Linked DNA regions of Homo sapiens. The protein of the gene in region 1 purifies or fractionates together with the protein of each later gene. This does not show direct contact. Each region holds a gene or a part of one and is shown in the gene's direction. Other genes may lie near its edges. The genes, in order: C17orf75 and MVK.

Evidence for each region.
Region 2: the proteins of C17orf75 (region 1) and MVK purify together in Homo sapiens (affinity purification with mass spectrometry; one large-scale study listed by BioGRID and IntAct). This does not show direct contact.

Annotation. Positions count from the first base shown.
Region 1 is NC_000017.11:32,335,474-32,339,290, reverse strand, and holds part of C17orf75 (protein Njmu-R1), read left to right. Parts: intron 1-939; coding exon 940-1,083; intron 1,084-1,336; coding exon 1,337-1,394; intron 1,395-3,817. UniProt on the Homo sapiens protein: As component of the WDR11 complex acts together with TBC1D23 to facilitate the golgin-mediated capture of vesicles generated using AP-1. May have a role in spermatogenesis.
Region 2 is NC_000012.12:109,580,206-109,584,022, forward strand, and holds part of MVK (mevalonate kinase), read left to right. Parts: intron 1-1,189; coding exon 1,190-1,345; intron 1,346-3,817. UniProt on the Homo sapiens protein: Catalyzes the phosphorylation of mevalonate to mevalonate 5-phosphate, a key step in isoprenoid and cholesterol biosynthesis.

The DNA of each region.
Region 1 (3,817 bases):
TTTTCCTTACAAAGGGGAAATATAGCAGATACTCTCTTATTTTCATTTTCAGATGAGGAAATAAACTCAGAGTTTATGTAAACTTAAGTCATGAGGCTGGTCAAATTGATGGAGTTCAGGCTTAAACATGAGCATTCTTAGTCCAATTCCAACTGTCTTTCCATTACACCTCTCCTTTTTTGTTTTGTTTTGTTTTTTTTAAGACAGAGTCTCACTCTGTTGCCCAGACTGGAGTACAGTAGCATGATCTTGGCTTACTGCAACCTCCGCCTCCCTGGTTCAAGCAATTCTCCTGCCTCAGCCTCCCGAATAGCTGGGATTACAGGCATGCACCACCATACCCGGCTAATTTTTGTATTTTTAGTAGAGATGGGGTTTCACCATGTTGGCCAGGCTGGTCTCGAACTCCTGACCTCAGGTGATTCACCCGCCTTGGCCTCCCAAAGTGCTGGGATTACAGGTGTGAGCCACTGTGCCCGGCCTCCATTACACCTCTTTATTCTAGTTCAACTCAGACCGTGAAGTTAGCATACAGGTCCTCAGGAGTTTGAGGCCACTTCCCAAGGATAAGGCCACCTTCAGGCACATCTGCCTTAAACATCAATTTGTGAAGCTTTGGGAGAGGGGAGAACATACTTTTTTTTAATATAAACATGGGTATGAACTAGAGTGAAATTTGTGTGAATTTTTCACATAAGACAGGAGAATTCAAAGAAATTTCATGTATGTTAGTGGCTGCTTTAACTAAAGCCCTCCAGGGTATACATTCATTTTTCTTTGCTGCTGCAAGTACACCAACGAGAAGTCTGGGAAGCTCTGAGTTAGTGGGCAGTTTAATGGTGTTGCCAGATCAAGATGACCAGAATTCAGAGCAGTCCACAAAATTATAGATGCATGAGTAACCAAAATAATGCATTTTACATTTTCTTTCTTTTCTAGAATTCCAGGTTACCGAGTTGGTTGTTATTACTGCCTTTTCCAAAATGAAAAACTGCTTCCTGAAACAGTAACGATAGACTCTGAACGTAACCCTTCAGAATATGTGGTCTGTTTTTTAGGAGGGTCTGAAAAAGGACTTGAGCTATATCCTTTCTTTGGTTTTTGAGAACATCAGGAAGGAAAACATGGGAAGGCAGGTGGAAGAATATTACTACCAACCTCCAAAAAGCTTTTCTACTCCTCGTGTATTTAGTTGAATTTCATACCTTCATGTGGCCATTTTGCCTTGGCTTGTTTGCATTTGCAGCTCACATTATTTGAGAGATTTTATATTTCTTGTTGAGAGATGAAATACTGTCTTCATTATTCATCCTTTATTGCTTCCTTAAGAACATACTTTCAGGCTTGAATTGGACAAGTACATTCAAGGGCTGAAAAATAACATGAATTGTGAGGTAAGGTGACTGACTTAATGGTTTTTAAAGACTGAAATGGGGCCAGGCTCAGTGGCTCACGCCTGTAATCCCAGCACTTTGGGAGGCCGAGGTGGGCAGATCACAAGGTCAGAGACCAGCCTGGTCAATATGATGAAACTTCATCTCTACTAAAACTTAGCCAGGCATGGTGGCAGGCACCTGTAGTCCCAGCTACTTGGGAGGCTGAGGCAGGAGAATCGCTTGAACCCGGGAGGCAGAGGTTTCAGTGAGCCGAGATTGCACCACTGCACTCCAGCCTGAGCGACAGAGTTAAAAAAATAAAATAATGACTGAAATGATTAATATACTGTGATTGCTCTACTTGTCAAATCATATAGGTAGACACAAAGACGCCTGTATTCTAGAAACTTGCCACCTTGTGAGCTAGTAGAGAGGTGAATTTTTTTTTTTTTTAGACAGGGTCTTGCTTTGTTGCCCAGGCTGCAGGGCAGTGGCGCGATCAGGCTCACTGCAGCCTCAGCTTCTTGGGGCTCAAGCAGTCTTCTCGCCTCAGCCTCCTAAACAGCTGGGACTACAGGCAAATACCAACACGCCTGGCTAACTTTTGGTATTTTTTGTCGAGATGGGGATCTCACTTTGTTGCCCAGGCTGGTCTAGGATTCCTGGCCTCAAGCAATCCTCCCTCCTCAGCCACCCAAAGTGCTGAGATTACAGACACGAGCCATTGTGCCCAGCCTACAGGTGGTTTCTTTTTCTTTTTCATTTTTTGAGATAGGGTCTCACTCTATCACCCAGGCTGGAGTGCAGTGGCACGATCATGGCTTACTGCAGCCTTTTCTGGGCTCCAGCGATCCTCCCACCTCAGCCTCCCAAGTAGCTGGTACCACAGGCATGCACCACCATGCCCAGCTAATTGTATTTTTGGTAGAGGTGGGGTTTTGCCATATTGCCCAGGCTTGTCTTGAACTCTTGAACTGCTGAGCTCAAGTAATCCACCTGCCTCGGCCTCCCAAAGTGCTGGGATTACAGGTATGAACCACTGCACCCAGCCTACAGGTGATCTTAAAGGGATACAGGAAACATAGTCCTGTAAGTGCTGAAAGTTTCACAAGACTACGTCTGATGTTTTGTATCTATGAAAAATTCGATCTATTCAATGGCATGTAGTAACATGCCTGGCGAGGAAGAGGATGTCCTTTTCCTGATTTCTAGGCATATAAGATTTATATTATGGTCAGAAGTACTGGTCCATGCAGCCTCTGGCACCAAAGACATGCTATGCAATAGTATGGCTGTTCTTGAACTAAACATCAAAGATTCTTAAAAACATTCTATTTTCATTAATTGATCTTTTATGAATTAGGCATATCCATATCAACTTATTCAAACCTTTGAAAAACTGGCTGGGTGTGGTGGCTCACACCTGTAATCTCAGCACTTTGAGAGGCCAAAGCGGGCAGATCACTTGAGCCCAGGAGTTCAAGGCCAGCCTGGGCAACAAAGTGAAACCCCATCTCTACAACAAATACAAAAATTAGCCAGGCATGGTGGCACGCACCTGTAGTCCCAGCTACTTGGGAGGCTGAGGTGGGAGGATCGCTTGAGCCTGGGAAGTTGAGGCTGCAGTGAGCTATGATTGCACCACTGCACTCCAGCCTGGATGACAGAGTGAGACCCTGTCTCAAAAAAGCAAACAAAAACAATGCTTTCAGCTTGTAGCAGTTGTTAGTCATGACTCTCACAAATTTACTACCCATTACATATATAGTAGAAGTTATACTTTTCACATACTTAGAAGATACTGCAGGAGAGAGGAAGGGATAGTGCAGGAGTGAGCAACTGATGCAAGTCTAATAGAGTTGTTCTCCCGGACTAGAGCTCTTCGTGTGTGACACTAGTCTTCAGGGAGCAGTATAGCCTAGAAAGCCAGATGTGCTCACGGTAGCATGTCTGACATCTGGAGTGGAGTGGAGTGCTTTGATGAGTTACTTGTATCCTTCCCCATTCACATTCTGAATACGAATGAATTCTCTATCTACATGACTAATTCAAAAGGCACTTAATAAGCTCATACTATGCATGTTTTAGACACTGTACCACAGGTGCCAGGGAAATGAGGATTATTGAGTGAGTATCTCCATTGAGTGCACAGTACAGTGGGAGGAGAGGGACTTGTGAGTGCCCAACTCTTCCCTGTGAAGAAATAGCATGGAACCCTATTCAGTCTCTTCATTTTATAGAATGCATTTCTTGGTGTGTTTTAAATAAATTCAGTACAGATTTAACCCTCACCCTGCCCAACAAGCCAGGAAAGGTATATCACAATTTCTTTTTTTGAATTGGTGGTGTTAGCTTTAAAAAGGGAGGTGTCTATCCTGGTCTTTTTCACCATCAAGGATATGATGAAGAAAATATGAAGTCCACTAAAGGAAAGGCTTATA
Region 2 (3,817 bases), on another chromosome or scaffold:
GATCCTTCCACCTCAGCCTTCCAAGTAGCTGGGACTACAGGTGCGCACCACCATGCCTGGCTAAATTTTTAAATTTTTGTAGAGATGGAGTCTCACTGTGTTGCCCAGGCTGGTCTCAAACTCCTGGGCTCATGTGATCCAACTGCCTTGGCCTCTGAAAGTGCTGGGATTAGAGGCATGAGCGACTGCACCCGGCCCCAGCCTCTCTGTTGTTGTTTTTGTTGTTTTTGTTTTTGTCCAGAACCCAAAGGGAAAAAAACCTCAAGGGGGCAGCCCTTCCCTTGAGCAGCAGATGCTGGCTCAGTGGCCAGGCTCTATGCTGAGGACACATTCGGAAACGGCCTGATACTTGCCGTCCGAAGCAGAATTTCAACTTGAGAGAGGCATGTCCCCTTAAGTGGGTGAGGGGCATTCCAGAATCTTCCAGGCTGGGTGGGGTGGGTACGTGGAATTTGAAGACGCACATTATTACAATTTTTCTATTTGGGAAATGGGAAAAGCACTTCGTGGAAATTACCAAACATGAAGTTTGACAGTTCTTGCTTGGGGGAAATACATGTAAGATGTAGCGATTCGGACCTTTCTGGTGATCAAAAGCAGACCCGTGTTACACATGGTTGGGGAGCACCGTCTGGCGGGAGAGGCCCCGGTGAACACACAATCCTAGTGTGCGGTGGTGAGGCAGCGGTGGAGGGAGGGAGGGCAGGCGGGGGTCCTAGAAGGGGAGCCAGGAGGGTCTTTGTGGGCAGCTACGGAAAGTGTCACAGTGGAAGCGACATTTGATAAGGCCTTGAGAGATGGGTAGGGATTTCTCTGTGGGATAAGGAGGTGCACGGCTATTGCAGGCAGAGGGGCCAGCCTGTGCTCAGAGCAGGCCCACAGAAAAGCCTAGCATGTGGGCACAGGAAGGAGGTGGGAGAAAGGGGTTGACAGCTTGCCAGGTGCTTCTGGGAAGGGCTCTGGTTGAATGACCCAGGGATTTAAATGAACTTGATACCTGTTTTCTAGTTGTCTGATTCAGCATGAGTTCCTGATGTTCAATAGGGATACATTTGGGGTCAGGAATTCTCCCCCAGTTGAGAAAACTGGACCAGATGCTTGGAGTCAGGCCTGGGCCTGGCCCCTGGTTCAGTGCTGGCACCCCACTGCCCTGCGGGAGAGTCACGTTTCACACCCTGGTGTGTTTCAGGGCCCTGCCGAGCCTGGATATCGTAGTGTGGTCGGAGCTGCCCCCCGGGGCGGGCTTGGGCTCCAGCGCCGCCTACTCGGTGTGTCTGGCAGCAGCCCTCCTGACTGTGTGCGAGGAGATCCCAAACCCGCTGAAGGACGGGGATTGCGTCAACAGGTAACCATGGTCCTTACCTGGCCAGTGTCCCTCCCGCACGGCAGGACAGGGACGTGGCTTCTCTCACTGAGACCTCACCACCTCCCTGTGAGGTGAGAGGTGTCATAGTGGCCATTTTAACATGAGGAAGCTGAGCCCCGAGAGGTCAAATGGCTGGCCCAGGGCCACACAGCTAGTGCTGGCAGAGTGGGATTTGAACTCAGAGTCTGAGCTTTTCTCTCCTGCTCTCCACCACCTCTGCTCACCCCCATCTTGGCTCTGTTGGTTTCAAGCGCCCATGGTATGGTAGAAAGAGCTGGAGTCCAGATCTAGAGGGCAGCAGGTTAGATGAACCCTCCCACCTCTGCATTGACTCAGGCTAGGACAGTGTTCTCCTCTGTATGGTAATGACAGTGCCCTAGGGGTGATTGTCCAGTTTTACCACATGGTTATGAAAGAAACTAAGAGTTTGCTGAGAAATCCACATTAGGGGGTGTGCCCATTAGACTAGGGCATCTCTCCTCCTACGGGGCCGTCTCCACGGAGGGCGTGTCACCTCTCTGCGTTCCTATTGACCACGTGAGTCAGTGAGGCCTGTCCAGACAGGCTTGACCACAGACCATTTCTATCATTAGGAGAATGTTCCTTGAGAAACCACCCAGTGCGCAGAGGTTACGCAGTTTGTCCCAGGACCAGGAGTTGTGGATGAGGCCCCCAAATGCAGAGCTCTGTCCTCTTCCTGGGCTTGTTTTTGTTTTGTTTTGTTTTGTTTTCTGAGCTTGGTTTTTTTGTTTGTTTGTTTGTTTGTTTGTTTGTTTGTTTTTTGAGATGGAGTCTCGCTCTGTCACCCAGGCTGGAGTGCAGTGGTGTGATCTTGGCTCACTGCAACCTCTGCCTCCAGGTTCAAGTGATTTTCCACGGGCCAAAGGACTGGCCCTGTCTTTCAAAAGGTGGAGGGTGACTGTGTGTGTGCACTTGCATGTGTGTGTGTTCTTATGCTGCTTCTAACCATTTCTCCCACCTTCCCCTGAAGGCCAGTCATTCCTTCTCAGAACCCTTAGGGAGAGTAGACCTCCCACCCCACCCCACCCCACCACACCCCACCCATCATGTGTTTCTGAGTCGGAAAGGACTGGAGCCCAGTCTCCTTTGAAGACTCAAATCTGAGCCCCCTAAAAAACAAACTGTGTAGAGCAGGAGGAAGACTCACATTTGTTGAGAGGGCCAGGCCCTGGGCTAGGTCAGCTGCCTGAGTTACCTTCCCCCGCCTCCATCACTCACTTCATCCCAGGCACGCTGCCACCTGTTGGTCCCTGGGAAGGGCCAGCCAGCTCTGGTGTGGTTCCAGTGCTGCACAAGTGGTGTGTCTGGAATGCACCCCACACACACACCTTGCCCAGCTGGCTCCCCTTGTCCTTCAGGCACCACCACCCCGCCCCAGCCCCCAGCAATTCAGCCCATCGTACTCTTACAGAAACACCTGGTTTGTTTTTGTTTTTGTTTTTTTAACTATATTATCATTTATTAAATGTAATTAGGTAGCTCTGGATCCTTGGTCTGTTTTTTTTTTCTTTTATTATTATTATACTTTAAGTTTTAGGGTACATGTGCACAATGTGCAGGTTAGTTACATATGTATACATGTGCCATGCTGGTGTGCTGCACCCATTAGCTCATCATTTAGCATTAGGTATATCTCCTAATGCTATCCCTCCCCTCTCCCCCCATCCCACCACAGTCCCCAGAGTGTGATGTTCCCCTTCCTGTGTCCATGTGTTCTCATTGTTCAATTCCCACCTATGAGTGAGAATATGCGGTGTTTGGTTTTTTGTTCTTGCGATAGTTTACTGAGAATGATGATTTCCAATTTCATCCATGTCCCTACAAAGGACATGAACTCATCATTTTTTATGGCTGCATAGTGTTCCATGGTGTATATGTGCCACATTTTCTTAATCCAGTCTATCATTGTTGGACATTTGGGTGGGTTCCAAGTCTTTGCTATTGTGAATAGTGCTGCAATAAACACACGTGTGCATGTGTCTTTATAGCAGCATGATTTATAGTCCTTTGGGTATATACCCAGTAATGGGATGGCTGGGTCAAATGGTATTTCTAGTTCTACATCCCTGAGGAATCGCCACACTGACTTCCACAATGGTTGAACTAGTTTACAGTCCCACCAACAGTGTAAAAGTGTTCCTATTTCTCCACATCCTCTCCAGCACCTGTTGAGAAACACCTGCTTTGAAGTCACATATTGCAGTGTCATGGATTTGTTTGTATTTGAATACTGATCGCTTTCTGACCTTCACTTTCTCCATTAGACTCTAAGCTCCAAGAAGTCAGGGACCTTGTCTGTTTTGCTCCCTACTAGGAGCTTAGTCACAGGCACATAGCAGTTGCTCAATAAATGCTGAATGAATAAGTGAGTGTATCTTGTTGGCACCATTAAGTTAGTAGCTAAGAGCTTGGGCTCCAAGTCAGCAGATG